2 separate regions of the Homo sapiens genome follow, and region 2 is linked to region 1. A link means that fine-mapping ties the variant in region 1 to the expression of a gene that starts in the linked region. Tissue or cell type: cerebellum. Region 1 holds a variant in brackets; the other region holds the start of a gene. All regions are shown on one strand. Distances are between the middles of the regions. Region 1 overlaps FAM118B (family with sequence similarity 118 member B). Region 2 holds the start of DCPS (decapping enzyme, scavenger).

Evidence for each region.
Region 2: it holds the start of DCPS, and the variant in region 1 is fine-mapped to the expression of DCPS in cerebellum (GTEx, PIP 0.98).

Annotation. Positions count from the first base shown.
Region 1 is chr11:126,249,820-126,258,926 of GRCh38, reverse strand. It overlaps FAM118B (family with sequence similarity 118 member B), which reads right to left. Exons shown (of 9, transcript NM_024556.4): 5 at 8,194-8,421; 6 at 4,494-4,622; 7 at 2,075-2,360. It also overlaps a transcript of SRPRA not described here. Among named protein-coding and RNA genes, the nearest start is that of SRPRA, 15 kb to the left of the region's middle. The variant G/T (reference allele first, on the strand shown) is at 3,987.
Region 2 is chr11:126,298,590-126,307,696 of GRCh38, reverse strand. DCPS (decapping enzyme, scavenger) reads right to left here and starts at 3,637. Exons shown (of 6, transcript NM_014026.6): 1 at 3,416-3,637; 2 at 953-1,127. The coding sequence starts at 3,616. It overlaps TIRAP-AS1 (TIRAP antisense RNA 1), which reads left to right and starts at 3,375. Exons shown (of 2, transcript NR_187388.1): 1 at 3,375-3,509. RefSeq lists an enhancer at 1,602-1,891 and a silencer at 3,550-3,679.

The DNA.
Region 1 (9,107 bases):
AAGGTTCCTTAGAGCAATCTTAGTGCACTAAGGAACCTTACTGCTTCTTTGTTATGTAATGCAACAGTCTAAAGACATATTTATTTTTTGCTAAGATTTAGTGCAACAGAAACAGTTATGCAGACGGATTTTGCTGTTTTAAACTTTAGCATCTTTCCTCAGCATATAGATCAAAAGAAATATGTAGAACTTGGATATGTATGTCTTGTTAATGAAAACAACATGTGCAACAGAAAAGCCTTCTCAAAGTCTCAAGTGTGGGCAAACAACAGCAGGAGAGTCTAGAACACTGCAGGACACCAGAAAAACTCATTTCCAACAAAGAATAGTAAATAGTTTTCACAAATGAGACTTGTTCATGTGGTGATGGCTTTTAAAAGTCTGGTTCCATCAAAGCATAGCCATGGAAGAAGCTGTGTAATTTTTCATTACAGGAGAATTCTACTTGAAGCCATCTGATTCAGTTAAGAAATCTGGGGATGATTTGATTTAGGAAAACTGCTTTATGTTTATTAAATTACCTGTATGTTATTTATTTTAGAAACAGCGTCTTGCTTTATTGCTCAGACTGTAGGGCAGTGATGCAATCATAGCTCACTGCAGACTCCAACTCCTGGGCTCAAGTGATCCTCCTGCCTCAACCTCCCAAGCAGCTGGACTACAGGTGTGTGCCACCACACCTGGCTAATTTTTTGCAGAGACAGGTTCTCACTATGTTGCTCACACTCATCTTGAACTCCTGGCCTCAAGTGATCCTCCCACCTGGGCCTCCCACAGTGTTGGGATTACAGGACAAATTACCTGTACTTTTGCCCTCCTAAGATGCATTCAGGTTGACAATGAAAATACTTACATAAGTTTTCAGGAAATATTCTGTGCACAACAGCCAAGTTTTTTTGGAATTAGATGGATGAGTCACACTAGCCATACTCTGGAGCCTGGCAATGTGAGGTTTTGAAAAAGCATTCTTCAGTTTAGCTGATACCAAAAATGTTTGTGTTTTGTGCGGTTACTGGGAATTTGCCTGCAGCCACTAATCAGCTGAATCTTTAATCACCATTTTGCTCTTTATTGTTAGAATGTGGAGGTAAAATATCAAGTGTATGATACCCCTATCCTCTGACTTGAATATCACCATTATCCGTTTCCAAATAGCATTTCTAAAAGTAAGTTTTCTGTTTGTAAATATAATACATAATCATCATAGAAAATGCCAATACAGAAACCAAAAAATCAACACTTTAAATCCTACTAAAGATAGCCACTTAATTTAGTAAACATTCCAGATACATTTCTACACGCACCAAAAAAAAAAAAAAAATGTACAATTCTATATGAATATAGCTGACCATGGTATTTACAACCTGCTTTTTCTTCCTTTACTCATATGTCTCTAACTTTTTTTTTTATGGCAATGAAAACACTTTCCCTTCTATGGTTTCATTGTATTTCATCAATTAAATAAATATTGGCATATCTGTAGAATCTCCACCAATTTTAGGATCCTTCCAATTTTTTGCCACTACATTCAATGGAAATTACATTCCCACGCATGCATCTTTGTACAATTGTGTGATTGTGCAATCATCCAATTATCTCCTTATGAGAAACTTCTAGGATAAATTGTTTTGATGGGATTTCTAGGTCAAAGATTTGAAAATTTTTGTTACATCTTCTAATTTATGGTCATAAAAGTTGTACTAACTTTACCTTTCCACAAATACTCCATGAATAAATTTATTTTCTCACAGCCTTAGCCAAAATTGGGTGATCTTTCTTCGCTATTTTGTAATCTAAATTCAAACTGCATTTCATTGATAACTAGTGAGGCTGAACATCTGTTTTCTTCATTCTTCCTATGTCTATATTGAACTGCTCAAGTATTCCTTTTTGTCTGTCTTCCCATAATCCAAGTGGCACTTTAGTCTAACCTGAAGACTGTGGCCTCCTTTACAATTTGGTCAGTCATTACATTCCTCATCTTGGCAACTATTTTGCCCATCACATCACAAATACACAAAAGGCTGAAGAGCTGTTGTTCTCTGATTCCCCTCAGCTTCAAAATGCATCTTACCTGATGTACCCCTTGTGGAGATCTCACATGTCAGTCGCTTGAAATATTCTGGAAGATCGGCATAGTCATCTCCATAGGAGATGACTTTAATCCCCTTGTCCAGCATGTTTTCTCGAAGCTTTTTGAACTCATCTACGTCTCCTCTCCGAACCAGCATGAAATGTTCTAGGTCAGATTTATGCTTGACAGCCTCCAAGAAAAGGGCCTGGAAAGTGGTGTCATCCACAGTCCAGCCACAGCCCAGGAAAAGAAATGACTTGTTTTCGTAGAGTTTCTGAATTTCTCTCTGGAAGGAAAAGATACAACATATTGACATTGTGAAGACACACTCAAGGCAAGTCTGAAACAAGAAGGTCATGCTACGTTGAGCAGACTGTGATGACCAATTAAGCAAGACTTAAGTGGGTTGGTATGTCCCATCAAGGAGTGTGATCTCTTGCTTATTGCTGTAACTTGATGATTGGTCTAAAATTTTATCTTTACCTGCCATTCTTCTGTAGGCTCTCTAATCAGCGTTTCATAGAGCTGGTGTCAGTGTACTGGTGCAGTAGTTTACTTCTTTATTTTTTATGCTTTATATATTTTTTGAGACGGAGTCTCACTCTTTCACCTGGGCTAGAGTGTAGTGGTGTGACCTCGGCTTACTGCAACCTCCACCACCCTGGTTCAAGTGACTCTCATGCCTCAGCCTCCCGAGTATATTACAAGTGTGCACCACCACACCCAGCTAATTTTTGAATGTTTAGTAGAGACGGGGTTTTGCCATGTTGGCCAGGCTGGTCTGGTACTCCCGACCTCGAGTGATCCACCCACCTTGGCCTCCCAAAGTGCTGGGATTACAGGCGTGAGCCACTGCACTTGGCCAGTAGTTTACTTTTTTATTTTTATTTTATTTTTGAGACAGAGTCTTGCTCTGCCACCTAGGCTGGAGTGCAGTGGCATGGTCTTGGCTCACTGCAACCTCCTCTGCCTCCCAGGTTCAAGCGATTCTCCTGCCTCAGACTCCCAAGTAGCTGGCATTACAGGCACCTGCCAGCACGCCCAGCTAATTTTCCTATTTTTAGTAGAGACAGGGTTTCACCATGTTGGCCAGGCTGGTCTGGAACTCCTGACCTCATGTGATCTGCCTGCCTCAGCCTCCCAAAGTGTTGGGATTACAGGCGTACTTTTTTAGATTTATGTGCCCAGAGGTCATTGTGCAAAGAGTAGGTCTTCATATATCTTAATCCTTCCATTTCTGGACCATATTTGCCTTTGTCTCACAAACTGAACTGTGAATCACCAGAGAAGATAATTCCATCATCGGATTTGCTCAAGGAAAGGCGTTTGATACTTAGAACATCAGTATGTGTGTGTGTGTGTATACATATACACACACAAAAACACAGAAATGACTGCCTAAGGGATCACTCAATGTCAGAGATGGATGCAGTTATGGCAGATGTTGGGAAAGAATGGGTAAAAAGAAAAAAAAGTCCCTTGTGCTTTAGACAATACATTTTCTCGGTCTTTTGCCTCATTATTAAAAGATGCTATAATCTATATGACCCAGTCCTGAAAACAGCAAACAAGATTCTTAGAGCTGGGGGCAGCGAATACTTCTGGTTTGAACATGTTTATCTGAACAAGTCGAAAATGTGCATCCCAAAAGATCAATAAGCTTTTCACAAAGAGTAAGTGTGAATAAATGTGGTTAATTCAATATAAGCCCATTGCCATTTATACAAAGTCTCTTTAGAATGTATTCTCTAGTAGTGGTTGGTTTGTTAAGAAGCTGCCTCAATTATTTCTGACACAGAGAGGGCTATTAATAAACCAAATGATGATAAAGGGTACTAATGTATCCTTTGTATGTGAAGATGATGCCAATGATGACATGCCATCTGCTGGTTGTCAATTAAGTACAAACAAA[G/T]ATCATAGGGTTTGACACCTTAAGAGAAATTCTACATTTCCTAGACAGCATGCACACCCATAAGTTAAGAAGCACAGGAAGAACGTCTGACTTTCCAGTTTCTTTCTTTTTTTAGAGATAGGGCCTTGCTCTGTCACCCAAGCTGGAGTGCAGTGGCTCTAGACACAGCTCACTACAGCCTTATATTCCTAGTCTCAACTAATCTTCCTGCCTCAGCCTCCCAAGTAGCTGGGACAGCATGCACCATGATGCCTAGCTAATTTTATTTTTGTAAAGACAAGAGTCTCGCTATGTTGCCCAGGCTGGTCTCGAACTCCTGGCCTCAGGTGATCCTCTCCCCTTGGCCTCCCAAAGTGTTGGGATTATAGGCATGAGCCACTGCTCCTAGCCCCTGACCTTCCGTTTTCACTTAATGAAAAGAAGATGTTCCCCTTTAAGATCTATGGCATATTTAGAGAGATTTCCCAGGAAGGAGTTCCTGAGACCAGCAAGATCAGCCCCACTCACCATGACTTCAGTGTTCCTGAGCACGTTCTGATATCCAGCCGGATGAAGGACAATGCCACTAGGGTTGGTGTAGACTCCGTGAATATGCAACACGCTCAGCTTACGCTTCTCCTGAGCCCACTCGAGGACCTGCACAACACACATATAGCCCAACCAGCTTGGCAGGGCTGAGCACCTGTTTAAAGGTCACAATGGGCAAGAGGCTGTTTTGAGGACTAGACTTCTGACATAAACTCTCTAGCTTCATGATATAGGACAAGAATGCAAAACCTGATGTGGTCTAAGTTTCCACTTCAGGAATGACTGTCAAGAATGATGGCAACAAATTTGGTGATTTCTCTTTGAAAGTAAGCATCAAAAATCACAATTTGTCATAATTTGCAGAAACAACAGGGACCCTTTGCACTGGTGGCATGCATGAGAGCTATGGACAACTGCTTCAGTGATCGCCCCAAGAAATCAAGCCTCTGTATCCAGGCCCTTGTGTGGCCCCTCTTCGGAGTGACTCCAGGCTAACCACATGGCTTGCTTTTAGCCAATGGGATACTAGCAAACACACACAAGCAGAAGCTTGAAAAGTGTTGGCACAAGAAGTCTTACTTCTCTTGTGTTACTTTTGGAATCCAGCTGCCATGCGAAGAAAGTGAAGAAGCCTGGGCTAGCCTGCTGGGACATATATGGCCTGGCCAATTGCTTGCAGGGAAGTATGGTCCCCTTATATCACTCAGCCCTGGTGCGGCCATCAGATGTCTGCAGGTATGTGAAGAGGGTGCAAAAATCAGCAGAAAAAATGCCTGGCTGAGTCACTGAGCCCAGTTCAAATTGTTAATATACTTTATCATGGGCAGATAAGATATTTGTTGTTACAAGCCACAAAGTTTCACGGCCATTACTTGTACAGCAATAGATAAGTGATAGAAAAATCACTTCAGTCACCTCTGAGGAACCTAAAAGGCTGCCAGCGAAGAACAATCATTTAGACAACAGCGAATGCAATAGCCACCTGATTCCATGGCTCCATTTTCCCAAGGACTGGAGACAGCATACATTTATTCTTATCACATTTTGGAGAAATAGGCTATGAATCAGGAAAGTAGTCAAGAGGCACCGAGATTTAGAATTTGAATGTTACTAGGCCCCATTCTGACTACCAGTCAATGTCTTTAACCATTAGACTGCAACACTGCCCCTAATGTGGGCTGAAAATACAATGCAAATCTTGAGGCCCAAGGATGAAATGAGAAGGAAAACATCAAATGTGATAGATATCCTCAGCTTTTAAAAGGTCCTTATGCTTCTGATATCCATGAACACACTTGGTCATAATCTTTGGAAATTTTATCACAAATAGCATAGAAGCTGCTAGTTTTAAAATTTCAATCATTTGTTTGTTTGTTTTTAGACAGAGTCTTGGTCTGTTGCCCAGATTGGAGCACAGTGGCGCAATCTTGGCTCACTGAAACCTCTGCCTCCTGGGTTCAAATGATTCTCCTGCCTCAGCCTCCCAAGTAACTGGGATTACAGGCGTGCACCACCACTCCCAGCTAGTTTTTGTATTCTTAGTAAAGACGGGGTTTCACCATGTTGGACAGGCTGGTCTCAAAATCCTGACCTCAAGTGATCCACCCACCTCGGCCACCCAAAATGCTGGGATTACAGACGTGAACCACTGTGCCCAGCCTATTTATTTAGAGACATGATCTTATGCTGTCACCCAGGCTGGAGTGCAACAGTGTGATCACAACTCACTGTAGCCTCGACTGCCTCAGCTCAATCGATCGTCCTGCTTCAGCCTCCCAAGTAGCTGGGACCACAGGCAAACACCACCATGCCCGGCTAATTTTTAAACTTTTTGTAGAGATGGGGTCTTGCTATGATGCCCAGGTTGGTCTTGAACTAGGCTCAAGTGATCCTCCCGCCTCAGCTTCCCAAAGTGCTGGGGTTACAGGCCTGAGCTGCTGTGCCCAGCCCAATCATTTATTAATCAAAAAAATATTTACCAAGCACCTAACTGTCATATTTGAGACATGAGGGTTGTATTTGAGTTATGAGGGTAAGAAAGACTAACATGATACCTATCCAAGTGAAGTTACTATTCCTATGGGGTAAACAGTCAGAAAACAGATAAACAGCCAAGATAAAAACTGTGCTGGGTGTGGTGGCTCATGCCTGTAATCCCAGCACTTTGGGAGGCTAAGGTGGGCAGATCACCTGAGGTCAGGAGTTCGAGACCAGCCTGGCCAACATGGTGAAACCCTGTCTCTACTGAAAATACAAAAATTAGCCAGACGTGATGGCGGGTGCCTGTAATCCCAGCTATTCGGGACGCTGAGGCAGGAGAATCGCTTGAACCCAGGAGGAGGAGGTTGCAGTGAGCTGAGATCATGCCATTGCACTTCAGCCTGGGCGACAAGAGCAAAACTCCATCTCAAAACAAAACAAAACAAAACAAAACAAAACGGCCAGGCACATGCCTGTAATCCCAGTACTTTGGGAGGCTGAGGTTAGCAGATCACCTGAGGTCAGGAGTTTGAGACTAGCCTGACCAACATGGAGAAACCCCGTCTCTACCAAAAATACAAAATTAGCCGGGCGTTGTGGCACATGCCTGTAATCCCAGCTACTCAGGAGGGTGAGGCAGGAGAATCACTTGAACCCAGGGCAACAAGAGCGAAACTGTCTCTCAAAAAAAAAAAAAAAAAGCTGCAAGTTAATACTAAGTGCTACAAAGGAAACGGACAAGAGACTGGATAAAAAAAATAAGTATCCAATTTAAATAGGATGGTCAGAGAAGGTCTCTCAGGAGGGGATCCCTAGGTTGAGAGTTATAAATGAAGAAGGAGCTGACCATACAGAATATGAGGGCGTAGGCGGAAGACACTTGGACCAGAGAAAACTAGTCTTCATGGGGCAGCTTTTCTCTAAATTCAATTCCCTTTAAATCCTGCCATCAAGGTCAGCAAAACCACAAGAGTGGTATTTCAGCTACCACTCTGGCAGGGGCAATACTGTAGTACTGAATGCCAGCAGGCAAATCACTTGTCTATTCAACTCTACTTAGTTGGGCTCTAAATTGGACATAAAGGCAGATTCCTGAGGAAAACAAAGTGTAGGAAAAAACATTACAAAAATCACAGAGTAGGACCAATGAGACTTTAAGAACTCATCTCATTAGCTGACACAGATCAACATCTATAATTCAATAATTATGGTAGGTACAGTATAGACTATGCTAAAACAAAGTCTGCTGAGGTTTCCACTAAACATTAACCTCAATTCAGCCATCGCTTGGCCTGGAAGTTGTTCTTCCAATCAGTATAAAGTAGTTTTCATACATTTCCAATAGATGCCATAAAAAAAGGTATCCTAAAATAGAACCAGCATTATCAATATTACACCACTGAATACTGTCAAGTGCTAAAGAGATCTTACAGTTCAAGTGACTTCCTCTAATCTTGCTTTAAAACTGGATGAAATTGTCAAGAGTCATAGAACTGAACACTTTTAAGTTCTATGCATTTTACTGTATATTGATTTGATCTTTAAAAAGAAAGAAAAAAGAAAAACAAAAACTCCAACCAGGGAAAAAATTTTTCCTTTCTAGCTCTACATAAATACCAATATACCAACTAGAAAAGAGCTTTTCTGAGGAAGATAAAATCCACTAGCCTGAAGAAGGGACCAATGCTTTACTTTTTACCTTTTTCTCATCAGTAAGGTCAAGGGATTCAAGCTGTTTCCCCTGATCTGCTGCATACAGTTCCAAGAGATTATCAAAATTTGTAGTTAATACGAGGGCTCCATTTTCCATCAGGTGGAGAACTGACTGAAGTAGCTGTTTTCCAGAATCTTCCATCTTTGACTCCAAGTCATCAAATACTTCATATAAACAGTCCTTGAAAAATGTGGATCGAACATTACTGGTACGCTGAGGAGGGATTTGAAAAAAGAAAATTAGTCCAAAGTGCTTTGGTAGGTCAGTTGTTTTAGTTACAGCAGTAACAAATTTTGGAAGAATATTTTGAATTCAAAACAGAGATAAAGGCCAGGCGCAGTGGCTCACGCCTGTAATCCCAGCACTTTGGGAGACCGAGGCGGGCGGATCACGAGGTCAGGAGATCGAGACCATCCTGGCTAACACGGTGAAACCCCGTCTCTACTAAAAATAAAAAAAATTAGCAGGGCGTGGTGACAGGCGCCTGTAGTCCCAGCTACTTGGGAGGCTGAGGCAGGAGAATGGTGTGAACCCAGGAGGCGGAGCTTGCAGTGAGCCGAGATCGCGTCACTGCACTCCAGCCTGGGCGACGGAGCGAGACTCCATCTCAAAAAAAAAAAAAAAAATCCCGGGGATAAAATATTATCTATCTCATACGAACGTAATAAGGAAGATGAGATGATACATGCCAAGTGCTTAGCACAATGCTTAGCAGATAGCAAGTGCTACTATACGTAAGCTTCCTAAAATAGGCATTTTTATAGAATGAAGAAAATAAACCTGGCCAAGGGATATGAATTTACTGTCGGTATTAAAGGGAAGCTGGGGTACAAAGCAGAGCGACAACTACCCTCTCATGAGGTGCCAGGTAAGAAGGCAACACTTTCCGTTCATCTTGC
Region 2 (9,107 bases), 49 kb before region 1:
GGTGGCTCACACCTGTAATCCCAGCACTTTGGGAGGCCAAGACGGGTGGATCACGAGGTCAGGAGTTCAAGACCAGCCTGGCCATGATGGAAACCCTGACTCTACTAAAAATACAAAAATTAGCCAGGCGTGGTGGTGGGCGCCTGTAATCCCAGCTGCTCGGGAGGCTGAGGCAGGAGAATTGCTTGAACCTGTGAGGCGGAGGTTGCAGCGAGCCGAGATCGCGCCACTGCACTCTAGCCTGGGCAACAGAGCAAGACTCCATCTCAAAAAATATATATATATTATTCTATCCCATGAATCACACTCTCTCCCTAAAACATACTACACTACAACAAGGTTTCTCTTTTTTTTTTTTTTTTTTGAGATAGGGTTTTGTTCCATCACCCAGGCTGGAGTACAGTGGCACAATCTCAGCTCATTGTAACCTCTGCCTCCTGGGTTCAAGCGAGTCTCCCACCTCAGCCTCCCAAGTAGCCAGGATTACAGGTGAACGCCACCATGCCCAGCTAAATTTTGTATTTTTAGTAGAGATGAGGTTTCACCATGTTGGCCGAGAGTCTGGTCTTGAACTCCTGACCTCAGGTGATCTGCCCGCCGTGGCCTCCCAAAGTGCTGGGATTACAGGTGTGGGCCACCATGCCTGGCCAGGTTTCTGAGTTTCAGCACTATTGACATTACTTTGCTGTGGGAGCCTGTCCTGTACATTGTAAGGTGTTTAGCAGCATTCTTGATCTCCACCCACTAGATGCCAGAAGCAACACCCCACCACCACCCCCGATTCTGACAATCAAAAATGTCTTCACCGATGGCCAAATGTCCCCTAGGGAAGTAATCTCCCTATTGTACTAGAATATGCAAATCGGGTATAGAGAGTCTGGTCACCATACCACCTAATTTCCCACCATCCCATTCTCCCTCCATACAGCCACCCTGGCCACCTCTTGCTCACCATTCAGTTGTCTTGGAGGGAACAAGTGATAGGTGCTGTAGATATCATTGGAGAACTGCAACTGGAGCTCAGGGCTGCCCGTCAGGAGCTGAGCCACCTGTTCCACCTGAAATGGCGTCTTCTCCAGGATCACAACGGCATCCTCTCCATCCCCATCCCCAGAGGCCTCATTCACCTGTGGGCAGAGGCATCATCAGTGGGCTCAAGGGCAGAACCACGATGAGACTCTGGAGAGCAAGACAGAAGCTCCCAGGGCCTTTGAATTCCCAATACTTGGGATTTCCTTCCCTGAAGTCTTCCCTCTGGGGAAGTCTAGCCAATGGCACTCACATTTCACATTTCTTTTCTCAGAGAAGGCATCTTTTTTTTTTTGAGATGGAGTGTTGCTCTGTTGCCCGGATTGGAGTGCAATGGCGCGATCTTGGCTCACTGCAACCTCCACCTCCTGGGCTCAAACAATTCTCCCGCCACAGCCTCCTGAGTAGCTGGGATTACAGGCGCATGCCACCACATCTGGCTAATTTTTGTATTTTTAGTAGAGATGGGGTTTCACCATGTTGGCCAGGCTGGTCTTGAACTCCCGATCTCAAATGATATGCCTGCCTCAGCCTCCCAAAGTGCTGGGATTACAGGTGTGAGCCACCATGCCCAGCCAGAGAAGGCATCTCCACCCAAATCCTTGTGGCAGTTCTCACACCTTTCTTCCCCAGAATACAAGGCTTCTCAGTTGTCTTCCATTTTAGGCTTACAAGACCTCTGTCAAGTTCTCCCCATTTCAGAAGATGAAAAACAGACCTTGAGTGACTTGCCCAAGGTCACATGAACAGTCAGCATTGAAACAGAAACCAGAACCTAGGTCTCCCAAGTGACTCCTAGCTCGAAGGCTCTCATGACTAACACCTTCAACAGGTGCTGCACACTGAAGACAGCTGGGCTGAGAGAACCAGACAGAATCGCATACAAAAAAACAGAAAACAAGAAACAAAAACAAACAAACAAACAAACAAAAAACAACAAAAAACAAGGCCCAGCGCAGTCGCTCATGCCTATAATCCCAGCACTTTGGGAGGCAGAGGTGGGTGGATCACCTGAGGTCAGGAGTTCAAGACCAGCCTGGCCAACATGGTGAAACCCTGTCTCTACTAAAAATACGAAAATTAGCTGGGCATGGTGGCAGATGCCTGTAATCCCAGCTACTTGGGAGGCTGAGGCAGGAGAATCACTTGAATCCAGAAAGTGGAGGTTGCAGTGAGCCAAGATAGTGCCATTGCACTCCAGCCTGGACAAGAAGAGTGAAACTCCATCTCAAAAAAAAAAAAAAAAAAAAAAAAGGCGGGTGCGGTGGCTCACGCCTGTAATCCCAGCACTTTGGGAGGCAGAGGCAGGCGGATCACCTGAGGTCAGGAGTTCGAGACCAGCCTGGCCAACATGGTGAAACCCCCATCTCTACTAAAAATACAAAAATTAGCTGGGCATGGTGGCGGGGGCCTGTAATCCCAGCTATTGGGCAGGCTGAGGCAGGTAGAATAGCTTGAACTCGGGAGGCAGAGGTTGCAGTGAGCCGAGATCACATCACTGCACTCTAGCCTGGGTGACAGAGAGGAGAGACTCCGTCTCAAAAATAAATAAATAAATAAATAAAAATTTAAAAACCAGATACACACAGAGGCATGGAAGCCTAGGCCAAGGTTCCCTGATCCTCCCAAAGGTGAGAGTTCCTGCTAGTAGTTCTAGGGAACCCCCTTATCTGCCCTGGCTAGGCCTCCTCACTAGTTTCTGGGGAACCCCCATATCTGCTCTGGCTAGGCCTCCTCACTAGTTCCTGGAATGGTCTCCATCTCTCCTCAGCCCCTGCCAGATTGCTGAGCACGTTGGTATTGGAGCAAGCTGTGTGTATCTGTCTCGCCAGAAATATTCCGTAGTCCTGAAGATCAGGGATGGTAACTTTCGTCTCCACATCCCCAGTACCTAGTTTAGTGTCTGGCATGCATGAAAGTGCGTGCGTAGAACTGAATTAACAATTATAATATATTGTTCTCCTGTTACGGCTGAAGTCGCGTAAGGCAGAGATCACATCTCCTACAGTCTCATGTCGTTTCCACGGACAGGGATGAGCGAGACATCTAACATTGACTGGGTTCCTAGTCCCTGTATACATAAATGGATGATGAATGGCTTGGGGAATGTAACATGTGATCTTTAATCTGCAATGCACTCTCCCAGTAGATATTTCTAGTGGAGACATTAGAAAAATTAGAGCTAGATGTGTTCATTGCCTTAATTTCAAAGGCAATCTTGCCGCCTTTCACCGCCCCTCTATGCATTCTAGTGGCGCACTCCCGCCTCCCCGGAGTGATAATGATTGGTATTTTCCAGCCGAGATCCGAAAAAAAAAAATCTGCCTCCGAGGCGATGATTGGTTCACTGCTTCCCGCATCCCACCTCAGGGTTGCCTCCTGGTACCTTCCCGTGTAGGAAAATGATTTTGTCCCGCGCAGACTCCCTCAGCACCTTCTGCAGTCTGAAGCCGGAGAACGGTAAGCGGACAGGAGCACAGGTACCATTTCCAACTCCTGCCTCCTTTTCCTCTGTGCTGGCGGCGTGGGCCTCCTCCACGTCCAATTCGCGCTTCCTCTTGCCTAGTTGAGGAGCTGCGTCCGCCATGCTGCCGCGGAGGCGGTGTGCGCCTGCGCCCCCTGCGCTGGCCCCGCCCCTAGCCCGAGTCCAGCGGCCTGGCTGGGCTGCTAACTCCCGGCCTACCCTGCTCTGGCACCCGCTCCTGCGGGATGCGTGCCGCGCATGGCGGAGCCCGCTGACCTGTCCCAGGGCGCGCCTTTCAACCGAGTTACTGCCTTTGGCCCCGTTGTGGTGCCGGCCGGCCCTCAGGGAAGGGAAAAGAAGGCTGAGAGTCCCGAAAGCGGCGGGCTAGAGGTGGCTGCGCAGTGAAGAGGGACCCCCAGGCCCACGCCCCGGGGTGGGAGCCGAAGACGCCCTTGGGCCACGGTAGTGTTGGAGCCCTTGTTTGAATACTGACATTTTAATCATAGTTACACCGACGTTGACCAATTATCGGGGAAGCAACGTTTCTGACGCAAATCCGTGAGCCCATTTGATTCCTTGGTCGATTTTTTATACCGAGTATTTAAGCCATTTCCATTTTTCTCCCATTTTAATTACTTTGCAGAAATTTTCATCGTGGTCAGTTTTTTACTTTGTAGACTCAGTACTTTTCTGCTGACAAAAAAGGTAAACGAATATGGCCAGAAGAACCATCTCCACCACCCACTTATTTCCGGGCTAGAGGCATCCCCCTCCTCTCTATTTTGTTTACCTGTATTTCTGCCCTGCTACCCAGGGATATGATTTGCAGTATGATTCGTCTCCCAGGGTTTCGTTTCTCTTTTTTTTTTTTTTTTTTTTTTTTTTTGCCATATAAAATTATTACTTGTAACTTCTGCTGTTGAGGGTTTCTTTGGTGACCATTGTTTCTGGTTAGCCCGTTTTTCACTGGTGTTATTTAACAGATCTAAATTTTGTGAAGAGTTGGTACTTACGGACAGGCGCGGTGGCTCACGCCTGTAATTCCAGCACTTCGAGAGGTCGAGGTGGACGGATCACGAGGTTAAGATACCGAGACCATCCTGGCCAACATGGTGAAACCCCGTCTCTACTAAAAATACAAAAATTACCCGGGCGTGGTGGCCCGCGCCTGTAGTCCCAGCTACTCGGGAGGCTGAGGCAGGAAAATCGCTTGAACGCGGGCGGAGTATTGTAGTGAGCCGAGATCGCACCACTGCACTCCACCCTGGCGACAGAGCGAGACTACGTCTCAAAGAAAAAAAAAAAGAGTTGGTACTTACATCGCTTCAGTCAGCCACACATTTATTTTGCCAGTGATTTGAGTTTAGGTTTTCAGACAGATCTCATGGGTGTGGGACAGTTTTTGCCATTCTCAACGTTAGCAACAAGATGCAATTTACAGTCAGTTTTTGGTCAATAACAAAGTGTACCATGTGTTAGTTTGATTTTTGGATTACTTCTACCAGAAATATAGATTAGGAGTTGGATAAAAGACTACTTTAGGCCAGGCGCGGTGGCTCATGCCTGTAATCCCAGCACTTTGGGAGGCCGAGGTGGGCGGATCACGAGGTCAGGAGATCGAGACCATCCTGGCTAACGTGGTGAAACTCCGTCTCTACTAAAGATACAAAAAAATTAGCCAGGCGTGGTGGCGGGCGCCTGTAGTCCCAGCTACTTGGGAGGCTGAGGCAGGAGAATGGCGTGAACCCGGGAGGCGGAGCTTGCAGTTAGCTGAGATCGCGCCACTGCACTCCAGCCTGGGTGACAGAGCGAGACTCCATCTCAAAAAAAAAAAAAAAAAAAAAGGACTACTTTGTGTGTGTGTGTGTGTGTGTGTGTGATGCAGAAAGCATTATTAGGAGAGACTTAGGATCTGTCCCCCAGGCTGGAGTGCAATGGCGCGATCTCGGCTCACTGCAACCTCTGCCTCCAGGTTCAAGCGATTCTCCTGCCTCAACTTCCTGAGTAGCTGGTATTACAGGCGGCTGCTACCACTCCCGGCTAATTTTTTGTATTTTTAGTAGAGTCAGGGTTTCACCATGTTGGCCAGGCTGGTCTCGAACTCCTGACCTCGTGATCCGCCCGCCTGGGCCTCCCAAAGAGCTGGCATTACAGGCGTGAGCCACCGCACCCTGCCAAAGTAGCTATGTTTTAACAAAAAGAGCCCATAATTGAGAGCCATGAAGTCGGGCCCCAACACTGACTAGCTGTGCAACTTTGGAAAAGTCTCTTAACCTTTCCAGGTCTCCATTTTCCATGTGCCAGCGGCTATTAGTTCTAAGCAAGACAACGAGGCCTCTTCTTTCATAAAATGTATATTCAAATGGGGTACATGAGGTAAACAAGATAATGATTAAGAACTGTTTTTTGTTTTTTGTTTTTTGTTTTTTTTTGAGACGGAGTCTCCCTCTGTCGCCCAGGCTGGAGTGCAGTGGTGCGATCTCGGCTCACTGCAAGCTCCACCTCCCAGGTTCACGCCATTCTCCTGCCTCAGCCTCCCAAGTAGCTGGGACTACAGGGGCCTACCACCACGCCTGGCTAATTTTTTGTATTTTTAGTAGAGACGGGGTTTCACCGTGTTAGCCAGGATGGTCTCAATTTCCTGACCTCGTGATCTGCCCGCCTCAGCCTCCCAAAGTGCTGGGATTACAGGCGTGAGCCACCGTGCCCGGCCAAGTACTGTTAATAGGACAAAACTGGACAGTGTGAAAGAGCCTGGGGATAGGAGCCCCCCCCCCCCGCCCTTTTTTTTCTTTCTTTGAGACAGAGTCTCACTCTGTCACCCAGGCTGGAGTACAGTGGTGCAATCTTGGCTCACTGCAACCTTCACCTCCCAGGTTCAAGCGACTCTTCTGCCTCAGCCTTCTAAGTAGCTGGGATTACAGGCGTACACTAGCACACCTGGCCAATTTTTGTATTTTTAGTAGAGATGGGGTTTTGCCATGTTGGCCAGGCTGGTCTCAAACTCCTGACCTCAGGTGACCTGCCCATCTCCCAAAGTGTTGGGATTACAGGCATGAGCCACCATGCTCGGCCAAGCTCTTTAGATAAGATGATCATGGACAGCCTCTCAAAAGGTGACATTTGAGCTGAGACTTGAATGATGAGAAGGAACCAGCCATATCAGCCATATGAAGAGCCCAGGCACAGTAAATATTAGCTGTCAAAGGCCCTAGAGCAGTAATGTGCTTGACATTTTTAAAAAATAGGAATGACCGTGGGGCATGGTGGCTTACACCTGTAATCCCAGCACTTTGGGAGGCTGAGGTGGGCGGATCACTTCAGATCAGGAGCTCGAGACCAGCCTGGCCAACATGGTGAAACATAGTCTGTACTAAAAATACAAAAATTAGCTGGGTGTGGTGGTGTGCGCCTGTAATCCCAGCTACCTGGGAGGCTGAGGCAGGAGAATCACTTGAACTCAGGAGGTGCAGGTTGCAGTGAGCCAAGGTCGCGCCACTGCACTTCAACCTGGGTGACAGAGCAAGACTCTGTCTCAAAAGGAATGACCTGTGTAGCTAAAATATAATGAGCAAAATAGAAACATTTGAAATGAAATAGTAGAGAAATGTATTCATTAGCGGCAAAATTAATCAATATGGGTATAATTTTGATTAAAATATAAAACCAGAATTCTACTCTTCAAAAAGGCCTGGCTCATGCCCCACGTGGTGGCTCATACCTGTAGTCCCAGCTACTTAGGAGGCTGAGGTGGGAGGACCACTTGAGCCCAGAAGTTTGAGGCTGCAGTGAGCTATAATCACACCACTGCCCTCCAGCCTGGGCAAGAGAGCGAGGCTTTGTCTCTTAAAAAAAAAGAATGCCAAGGAAAGGATGAGCTCATAGGAAGCCTCAGCTACCAGAGGTTCTATTAAATACCAGACCTCAGTGTGAAAGGAATCTTTATGGTAGTAGTTAAAATTCATTTCCTCAGTTACACTAGCCACTTTGCAAGTGCTTGATATCCACTTGTGGCTATCGTATGAGCACAGATGGAGAACATTTTCATTATCAAAGGAAGTTCTACTAGACAATGCTGTATTAGCTTACTCATTTATTATAAAGCCCTGTTCAATTGTTTTTCAGAAATCTTAAAATTTCTCCCACGCAAGGTGCGGTGGCTCACGCCTGTAATCCCAGCACTTTGGGAGGCCAAGGCGGGTGGATCACTTGAGGTCAGGAGTTTGAGACTAGCCTGGCTAACATGGCGAAACCCCATCTCTATTAAAAATACAAAAATTAGCTGAGTGTGGCAGCAGGCACCTATAATTCCAGCTACTCGGGAGGCTGAGGCAGGAGAATGGCTTGAACCTGGAGGCGGAGGTTGTAATGAGCCAAGATTGCACCACTGTGCTCCAGCCTGAGTGACAGAGCGAGACTCTGTCTCAAAAAAAAAAAAAAAAAAAAACCTCCCAAATCTTTTCTTTTTTAGTCTAAAGAAGGATTGGATACTTCCCAGTTCCATTTCAGGGATTATAACAGACTAAACTGAAAACAAGTCAGCTACAAAATACCCGAACATTCTGGATGTAAAATTTAAAACATTCTTTTAGTTACGTTGCTGAGCTCTCAAAAAAGTAAAATTTGCAGGAACCAAAAATGATGTGGGAGTTTGAATCTATAGAGTGGTAAGGGGATTTTTAAGGTGGAAGCTATTTTAAGGGCCATTGCTGATCTCTAGACGTCTAGGACCCGATTCAAGGGACAAGAGACAAGACCTGAGCTTATGTAAAGAGGAATTAAGATACAGAACTTTCTATAGAGCTAAGAACCCTGAAGGTCCACTAGCTCAATGAAGGGGCCAACAATTTTTTTTTTTTTTTTTTTTTTTTGGATACGGAGTCTCACTCTGTCGCCCAGGCTGGAGTACAGTGGCGCGATCTCAGCTCACTGCAACCTCCGCTGCCTGGATTCAAGCGATTCTCATGCATCAGCCTCCTGAGTAGCTGGGATTACAGGCACCCACCACCACGCATAGCTAATTTTTTTGTATTTTTAGTAGAGACGGAGTTTCGCCACGTTGGTCAGGCTGGTCTCGAACTCCTGACCTTGGGTGATCTGCTCGCCTTGGCCTCCCAAAGTGCTAGGATTATAGGCGTGAGCCACCATGCCTGGCCAGGCCAACTATTTATAAAAAAGAAAAATGCTGCCCTACTAAAGGAGAGAAGGTGATTAGGAAACTTGCCTGCTTCAACCGTTGTTCCAGAGGGAAGAAGGAAAAAACCTCCTAAGAATTTATAACCACAGATGATTCTTCATGCAGACAGACTTCACATTCATGATTGTGTACATGATCCAGGACACTCAAACTGAAAAATCTACTTAAACTGGTCTTGTAGTCTTTATTGACTGTTTGTACCAAATTGACTCCAGGAGAAATGGAAAATCTAATTAGATCTATAACTCTTCAAGACATTGAAATTACAGCTTTAAATTTTACAATAAAGAATATTCTGGCCAGGCATGGTGGCTCACGCGTGTAATCCCACTGCACTCCGGCCTGGGCAATAGGGCAAGACTCCGTCTCAAAAAAACCAGAATATTCTAGGCTCAAATGGTATTACAGATGAGTCTA